Homo sapiens: one gene and its partner. The protein of the gene in region 1 purifies or fractionates together with the protein of each later gene. This does not show direct contact. Each region holds a gene or a part of one and is shown on either strand. Other genes may lie near its edges.

Region 1 (4,315 bases):
ATCACCTGGGAACTTGTTAGAAAGGCAAAATATTGATCCCAGTTTGAAAGAGTCAGAATCTGCATTTTAACAGGATCCTCGGGTGATTTGCTTACATGAGAAAGTTTGGGAAGCAGCACTTTGGTACATAGGTTGTCACATACGAATTAGATAAATCATAAATCTGAAATGGGGTGTGTGACATTCCTGCTTGTAATATATTTTTCTCATGTTTATAATCGATAAATAAACAATACAAAACTTATAAATAATGATAAAGCACTCCAGACTCCTGAGTTCTGCTGCTGGTTAACAGTCAATTAAACTTCCTCAGTCCTGATTTCCTCATTGGGAGAAAAAAAGAGTTGGAATAGGTGAGCATATAGTTTCTGATTTCAGCAAATAGATTTTGTGTTGGTTGGAAGCTGAAGAAAATCAACCACCTGTGGTATAAATCCTTCGGCAGGAGACATCATGAATAAGCGATTTCAGTCTCCTGACAGCCACGGCTCAGAGTCAGCTGTTAGCTGATCTCCTGCCGCTGATATTGTGGCCTCGAAATTATCACTAGAACCAGCTTGTGCTTTGTGGCTCTGGTGGGCAGCCTAGGGGAGGAAGTGGGGGACCAGATGCTGGCAACAGGTCTTCCAGGCCCTGCATTTTCCCCATTGTCATGTTAGTCTTTGAGCTGACAACCAGAACAATGGCTTCTTAACCTACCCCAAATAATTTTGATAACCTTCTATTCTCATCCTTTTTTTTCCTTTTTCTTTCCCATCTTGTCTTTGAAAGTATCAGACCTCTGAGGAAAGGCTATTGACATTTGATCTGATTATCGTTGCTAGAGCCACAAAGAGAAATTTTATTTCTAACGTTGTTTTTTTCTTTTCCCCAAGAAGAGGCTTTCTCTTTGTATGTTTGGAAGAGGACAACATATTTGGAATCTTGAGATCTCAGATCTCTGTAATGAGCAGTTTGCCTAAGAAATCATGAATCCAGATTAATCACTTTTATTCCAGCAAAAATGCAACTCTCTTATTGCATTGTGTAATCTTATTATTATGCTCACTTCGGAGGAATAGGGAAGTCCTTACCTTGTTTCGTCTTGCAATACTAGAATTTCCTTGAAAGCAAAGTGAACCTGGAGTGATAGATTCACTTTCATGTTTCAGCCTGATTTTTTCCCACTGTATGCCCACGCGTGTGTGTATGAGTGTGTGTGTGTGCGTGCAGGCACACACACGCACACTCACATTTTCCTTTCTGCCTCCCCTTTCGAGCTCTTCCTGCCTTCTCTATCATGCGCAGGCCCCTGGCAGCTCGTGGTTGGCAAGAGCACGAACCCGTGGTCAGATGCAACGTCCTGCCTCATGCATTTTCCTCTTGGTGCTTTGGTCAGAACTTCCCCAAGTGGAGTGAAACTCAGGAGCTGAGAAACCGAGTCACTGTGAAAAGATGGGAAATTATCTCCTGCGAAAACTCAGGTGAGTCTTGACTCTTGGTGCCGCCTTTCTTGGGAGAAAGAGAACAGAGATAAGGAGGCTGGACATAACGCATTTGTAATGGTGAGGTACATTGTGCTTCTAGAAGGTTAAGCCTGAAGACAGCATCCTCTAGGAGCACACAGTGACGCCCAGTTGGCTCCTTCTCTTGCCTTACTCTGGAACAATGATAGGTTGCCAGATGTAGAAAACAAAAATACTGGATGCTAAGTCACATTCAAATTCCAGAAAAACATTTTTTTTTTTAGTATGAATGTGCCTCATATAATATTTTGGGCATTATAACATGGGTTGTACTTTACTAAAAAGTTATTCATTGTTTATCTGAAATTCAAATTTAGCAGTGCATCTTGTATTTCATCTGGCAACCCTACACAATTGTCACTTGAATTTTCCTGCTTCTCTTTTTCTTCATGTGGGTGTAGAGCTTAACTTTCCATCCATCAGCTTCGTGGGTTGGTATGAGAATGAACAGTTAGGTCCTTGCAAATTATGGATGCGGGATATGCATTTGAATGCCTTTGACTTTAGTCACACCTTTTTTGGTAATGTTTAGCCTTACACTCTTCCAATACTTCATAATTTATAGAATGTGTACAGATAACAGGCATTATTGTTCTTACATCTTGCTTAATCTTAAATGATGGGCTCTACAGCATCCCACTCCTCTGTCCGCTCTCCCAGTCCCCTTCCAGACAATCTTGCATATGACGTGACTACATTGATAGACCCAAGGCAAAACTCTCATCATATCGCTCCTGTGCTCCAGTGGGTACCATGTAGAAATATGACTGGACAAAAAGGGTATGACCTAACGCTAATAGACGGAGTGGAAAATCCCAGCAAGTCTTGTTCTGTCTGTTTAGATTCTTCTTGACCTCTCTGTGCAGCGTTCCTTACTTACGGGTATGGGGCAGAGGACTCTCTGGAATGGGGGCTTATGACCTACAGTCAAACAAAGTAGGTCAGAGAAGCTGTCTTTATGAGGCAGCAGATTGGCTTCCCCACACCTGATGGTTCATACCGTCTCCTTTCACCAGGTTAAATAGTTCAGCTGTCCCTTGATGTCTTCATTTAGTCTTTCAGTAAATTGCTATTTGTTAAAGAGCTTAAGGGTGGCTGGGCACGGTGGCTCATGTCTGTAATCCCAGCACTTTGGGAGGCCGAGGCGGGTGGATCACGAGGTCAGGAGATCGAGACCATTCTGGCTAACACGGTGAAACTCCGTCTCTACTAAAAATACAAACAATTAGCCGGGCGTGGTGGTGGGCACCTGTAATCCCAGCTACTCGGCAGGCTGGGGCAGGAGAATGGCGTGAACCCGGGAGGCGGAGCTTGCAGTGAGCCGAGATCCCGCCACTGCACTCCAGCCTGGGCGACAGAGCAAGACTCTGTCTCAAATAAACAAACAAACAAAAAAAAATGCTTAAGGGTTCATGGATGGAGAAGGGCCATCAAAGTTCAGGATGAGCATGAGTCTGGGCAGTAGATGGAGGACAAATGACACAATTGTGCTGAGAGGTAAATTCAATTATTTACCCTAAAGAAAAAATGTTTCCCTTCTTTTAAAGTTAAGCAATATTTATGGAAAGCCTAGGTAAGACAATGGTCTTGGTCGCAAGAAAAAATTAAACATGGAAGGAAAATGGATATGGAAGCAAATTTTAAAAATGGATAGGCCCCTTCAGAGAACATCGTACTTAATCACTCTGACTCAGCTTTAAAAAAATAGACATTACGTGGCTCAGATAATTAAAATTGAGAGAGAATTAAAACTTGTCAAGGTTGCCTTTGCTATAAAATTATGAATCTTACATGTAATTTATGATGTCAAGTCATCCGTCATTTCCATTACACCACAATGGCTTCTTTTTAAGATAAGGCAGGTGCTAATGTGTTCTAGGCAGAAGCACAAACAGCGCACTGTAGAAATAAAAGGAAGGAAGGAAGGGAATTCTGGTTTGGGATAGCAGGAAGGAAGGACATGCTTGAGGAATTGCCATTTGGATTGTGCTGTAAATGTTAGGCAGACTTACAAAGCAGGAAAAGATGGTCCAAGCTGAAGGGACAACCTGTGAAAATGTATGAGTTTCAAGTGTATGGTATTACTGTCAATAATTGGAGCATATTGTTCAGAGATGACTCCAGTAGCAGAAGAAGTTGAGAATGAAGCTGGGGGTCTGATAATGAAGGGCCTTCAAAGGCACGTAGAAAGTGGTAAGCAGTGAACATTTATAAGCTGGAGAAAAATGCAATGTGGCATGTATTTTAGGAAGAAATGTCTATGCTCAGTGAGTATGGAGGAATGACACAGAGAGAAATAGACAATAAGCTCTTAAAATATACCAAAGAAGATGCAGGGGCAAAAGGAAAACTTCCCCTTTGCTCCCTGAAGGTTCTCTGAAATCAGCTGAGAAAAGGCAGATTAATAGGACAAAAGGCAAATTTATTGATCATCGTTTTATGTGACACAGGAACCTCAGAATGAAGACCCAAAGATGCAAAGGAAACTGTCCATTTCTATGCTTAGGTTCAACAAATTTTGGATAGCCATGTGGAAATATGATTGGACAAAAAGGATATGACCTAATGCTAATAGACAGAGTGGAAAATCCCAGCAAGTCTTGTTCTGTCTGTTTAGATTCTTCTCGACCTCTCTGTACAGCATTCCTTACTTATGAGTATGGGGCAGAACACTCTCTGGAATGGGGGCTTATGACCTACAGTCAGACAAAGTAGGTCAGATAATGTCTTTATGGCTGGTTCTTACACAGAAAGATACAGGGAAAGTTAGAGTCATCTTACTAATTTTATGGCTGGCTTTGGGGAAAAGA
Region 2 (3,821 bases), about 150 Mb from region 1:
TAAATATTTTGTGGGTTATTAGAATTCTGCTTAAAACACCTGTGAAGTTTGAAGCTTTTGCTGAATTTATTGATTTTTTTTCCCATTGAATACGTTCTATAAAAATCAGAGTTCCTTAGCTTAGTTCTTGATTATAACAAGCGTTAGTAAATTTGAAAAAAGAATCCTTCAGGATGCTAATTATAATTAAAGATAGTAATTGGCCAGGCACGGTGGCTCACGCCTGTAATCCCAGCACTTTGGGCGGCCGAAGAGGGCGGATCATGAGGTCAGAAGTTCGAGACTAGTCTGACCAACATGGTGAAACCCTGTCTTAACTAAAAATACAAAAATTAGCCAGGTATGGTGGCATGTGCCTGTAATCCCAGCTACTCAGGAGGCTGAGGAAGGAGAATCTCTTGAACCTGGGAGGCAGAGGTTGCAGTGAGCCAAGATTGCACCACTGCACTCCAGCCTGGGTGATGGAGTGAGCCTCTATCTCAAAAAAAAAAAAAAAAAAAAAGGCACCAAAACAAAACAAAGTTAATTAAAATTTTTAAAAAATTTCTTTTCCTTTCTTCTGTATAGTTTAAAATTCCAGCAAGGTCTTCTGGTAGACTTCTTAGCTTTCCCACAAAAATTTATAGATCTCCTTCAGCAATGTACTCAAGAACATGCCAAAGAAATTCCAAGGTAAGTTGCATGAGAATGCTACATTATTAAATTTAATTCAAGACAGACTCTTCTTTGAAACACAAGTTGATGGCAAAATCTTTTCCGTTTATTATGACTATCCCTGTTTATTTTTAGAACTGGGGTTAGGCCTCCATTAAATCTCAGACTTTAAGGCATCTTGATTAAAATCAGAAATATTTCTTAATTTTCATGTCTTGACAAAGGCACTAAAGTCATCCGAAATATTTAGCAGCATCAAATATTTGGTTTTATAATGATATTGGAAAAAGGGAAGACTAAGATTGTATGTGTGTATGGTGCTAACGCCTGATTCTTTTACTGTAAAGTTCACCATCAACCTTTTATTTATTGGTTTTATCAGTTGACGATTGTTGTTGAATCAGTTATTTCATTAGGAAGAACAAAATGATGCTTCTGTATAATTTTTTCTATATTAAGTATAATTCTTCTATAAAGAAGAACTTTTCCTCAGCAATTAGGGCTATTTGATTACTCAGAAAATTCATAAAGGATAAATGCTTAATTCTTGCATTTAAATTGTCAATTTTTAGAGTAAAGAGCTGGTAGTCTACTTTTGTGGCACTCAGTGAATTTTTGTTTCTAGTTTTTGCTTTTTCTCTCATTTGTTTCTCATGAACTCATGGACTTTTATGTAGTCACTGTGTTTCAGTCAATCTTTTCTTTTTTTTGCCCAATTTATCTTTTACCATTGGGAGTCCTCAATGTGCTCCCTTTCCTGAGCTTTCTTAAGTAGAGAAGCTTCTGATTCAGTGAGAGATTTTCACTATCTCTTAAGTGTGTTATAATGTAACATTTTCTTTTCAAAGGTTTTTGCTACAGTTAGTTTCTCCAGCAGCTATTTTGGATAACTCACCTGCATTTTTAAATGTGGTAGAGACAAATCCTTTTAAGCATCTTACACACCTCTCACTAAAACTTTTACCTGGAAATGATGTGGAGATAAAGAAATTTCTCGCAGGCTGTTTGAAATGTAGCAAGGTAAGATTTAAATTTAAGTTATTCTTTTAACAAAATAAGTATCAATGGTCTTTGATAAATTATTGAAGAGATACATTGCCATAAGTTTTTGTTTTCTAAATAAAGTTTTATGAAATATAACGAATTTATTTTACTGTTTCTTATTTAGTCAAGGTATAGTCGGGATGGATCTGGACCAGGAATTGAGAAGCTTAGGTCTCAGGGTTTTTACCAATCGTGTGATTTTGGACAGGTCACTTAAACTCTTCTGTCATGGTTTCATCAACTGGTAGACATGTATGGAAATAGCTACCCTATCTAGCCCATCTTTTTTTTTTTTTTTTTTTTTGAGACGGAGTCTCGCTCTGTCGCCCAGGCTGGAGTGCAGTGGCGGGATCTCGGCTCACTGCAAGCTCCGCCTCCCGGGTTCACGCCATTCTCCTGCCTCAGCCTCCCAACTAGCTGGGACTACAGGCGCCCGCCACTACGCCCGGCTAATTTTTTGTATTTTTAGTAGAGACGGGGTTTCACCGTTTTAGCCAGGATGGTCTCAATCTCCTGACCTCGTGATCCGCCCGCCTCGGCCTCCCAAAGTGCTGGGACTACAGGCGTGAGCCACCGCGCCCGGCCCTAGCCCATCTTTAATGAGATAAGATATATGGAAATGTCTTGAAAATTATAAAGTGCTATATGGCACAAGGAAACAACATAGGGATGCTGCTTGAGTTTTTAGAGTCTTTCTAGTCAAATGCTATAGATCAGTGCATGTCAAACTTTAAATTATCTGGGGATCTTGTTAAAATGATTTAGATTTGAGATGGAGCCTAAGAATCTGCATTTCTAACAGGCTTCCAGGATGATGCTGATGCTATACTTTGAGTAGCATGGCTATAGATGATTACATTGTAAACTGTGTAATTTTATTATTTTTATGAATAGGAAGAAAAATTATCATTGATGCAATCACTAGATGATGCTACTAAGCAACTGGACTTTACACGAAAGGTAATTCAAATTTCATTTTGTCTTTGTAAGTCATCCAGACATTGGCACTGAATTGCTTCCTTGACTCAGTTCCAAGCTTTTATGTATTTTCTTTCAAAGCATGCTTCCGTTGAATTTCCATTCCTCTTTGCCACCCTTCAACTACCACTTAATTATCTTAATTTGATACTTTCTCTTGTACATACTTGATTTTACACAAACATTTCTGTATCCCCAATATATAACATGTTCCCTCGAGTCTTCATTAAATAAGATATGTATGTTTCTGTCATATATTAGTTCTCCACTCCCCACTTGTTCGCCTCATTCCTCTGGCCTAAATGGCTTTTCAGTTCCTATGCTCTAAACCTTTCCCTTTCTTTGCTATGTTTAGAATTAATTCCTCTGATAGGCTTAGCATCATTTCAGTCATAGCTACAACATTTCTGCCCTAGTTCATGAAATTGAAGGCCAGAGTATCTGTTTTAGCTTGTTCTTGCTTTGCTTTAAAGAACTATCTGAAGCTGGGTAATTTATAAAGAAAAGAGATTTAATTGGTTCATTGTTCTGTAGGCTGTACAAGCATGGCACCAACATCTGCTTGGCTTCTAGTGGGGACCTGAGGAAGTTTACAGTCATGGCTGAAGGCAAAGGGGAGCAGGAGTGTCACATGGTGAGGGTGGGAGGAAGGAGGTACCACATGCTTTTAAACATCCAGATCTCATATGAACTAACTGAATGAGAACTTGCTTAACACCAAGGGAATGGCACTAAACCATTCCCATGATCCAATCACCTACCACAGGCCCTGCCTCCTCTGTTGGGGATTACATTTGAACATGAGACTTGGAGGGGACAGACATCCTAACTATATCGGTATCTGATAATCTGCATGGCCTCATGCAGAAAATACCCCTGCACAATGTGGCCCACAGGGCCATGTTACTGGGTTTTATATGTAAGTGAACTATTCCTTATAATCGACTTGCTTCCCCTTACCCCTCTTTATTGGGTGGTAAAGAGCCAGATTTAATTAAAAGCTTTAATTAAAAGATAGTTAATCTTGACCTGTGGGCCGTTTTGGGTCTAAGATTGTTCTTATTCTAATGTTGATTTCCTAAAATTAAAAAATTTTGTGTAGGAAAAGGCTTTGAACATGTCCTGAAAAGCTATAATTTTGTTTT

The links.
Region 2: the proteins of GCSAML (region 1) and SASS6 purify together in Homo sapiens (affinity purification with mass spectrometry; one large-scale study listed by BioGRID and IntAct). This does not show direct contact.

Annotation. Positions count from the first base shown.
Region 1 is NC_000001.11:247,547,758-247,552,072, forward strand, and holds the start of GCSAML (germinal center-associated signaling and motility-like protein), read left to right. Parts: upstream 1-1,376; 5' UTR 1,377-1,434; coding exon 1,435-1,463; intron 1,464-4,315.
Region 2 is NC_000001.11:100,119,231-100,123,051, reverse strand, and holds part of SASS6 (spindle assembly abnormal protein 6 homolog), read left to right. Parts: intron 1-567; coding exon 568-672; intron 673-1,502; coding exon 1,503-1,674; intron 1,675-2,592; coding exon 2,593-2,658; intron 2,659-3,821.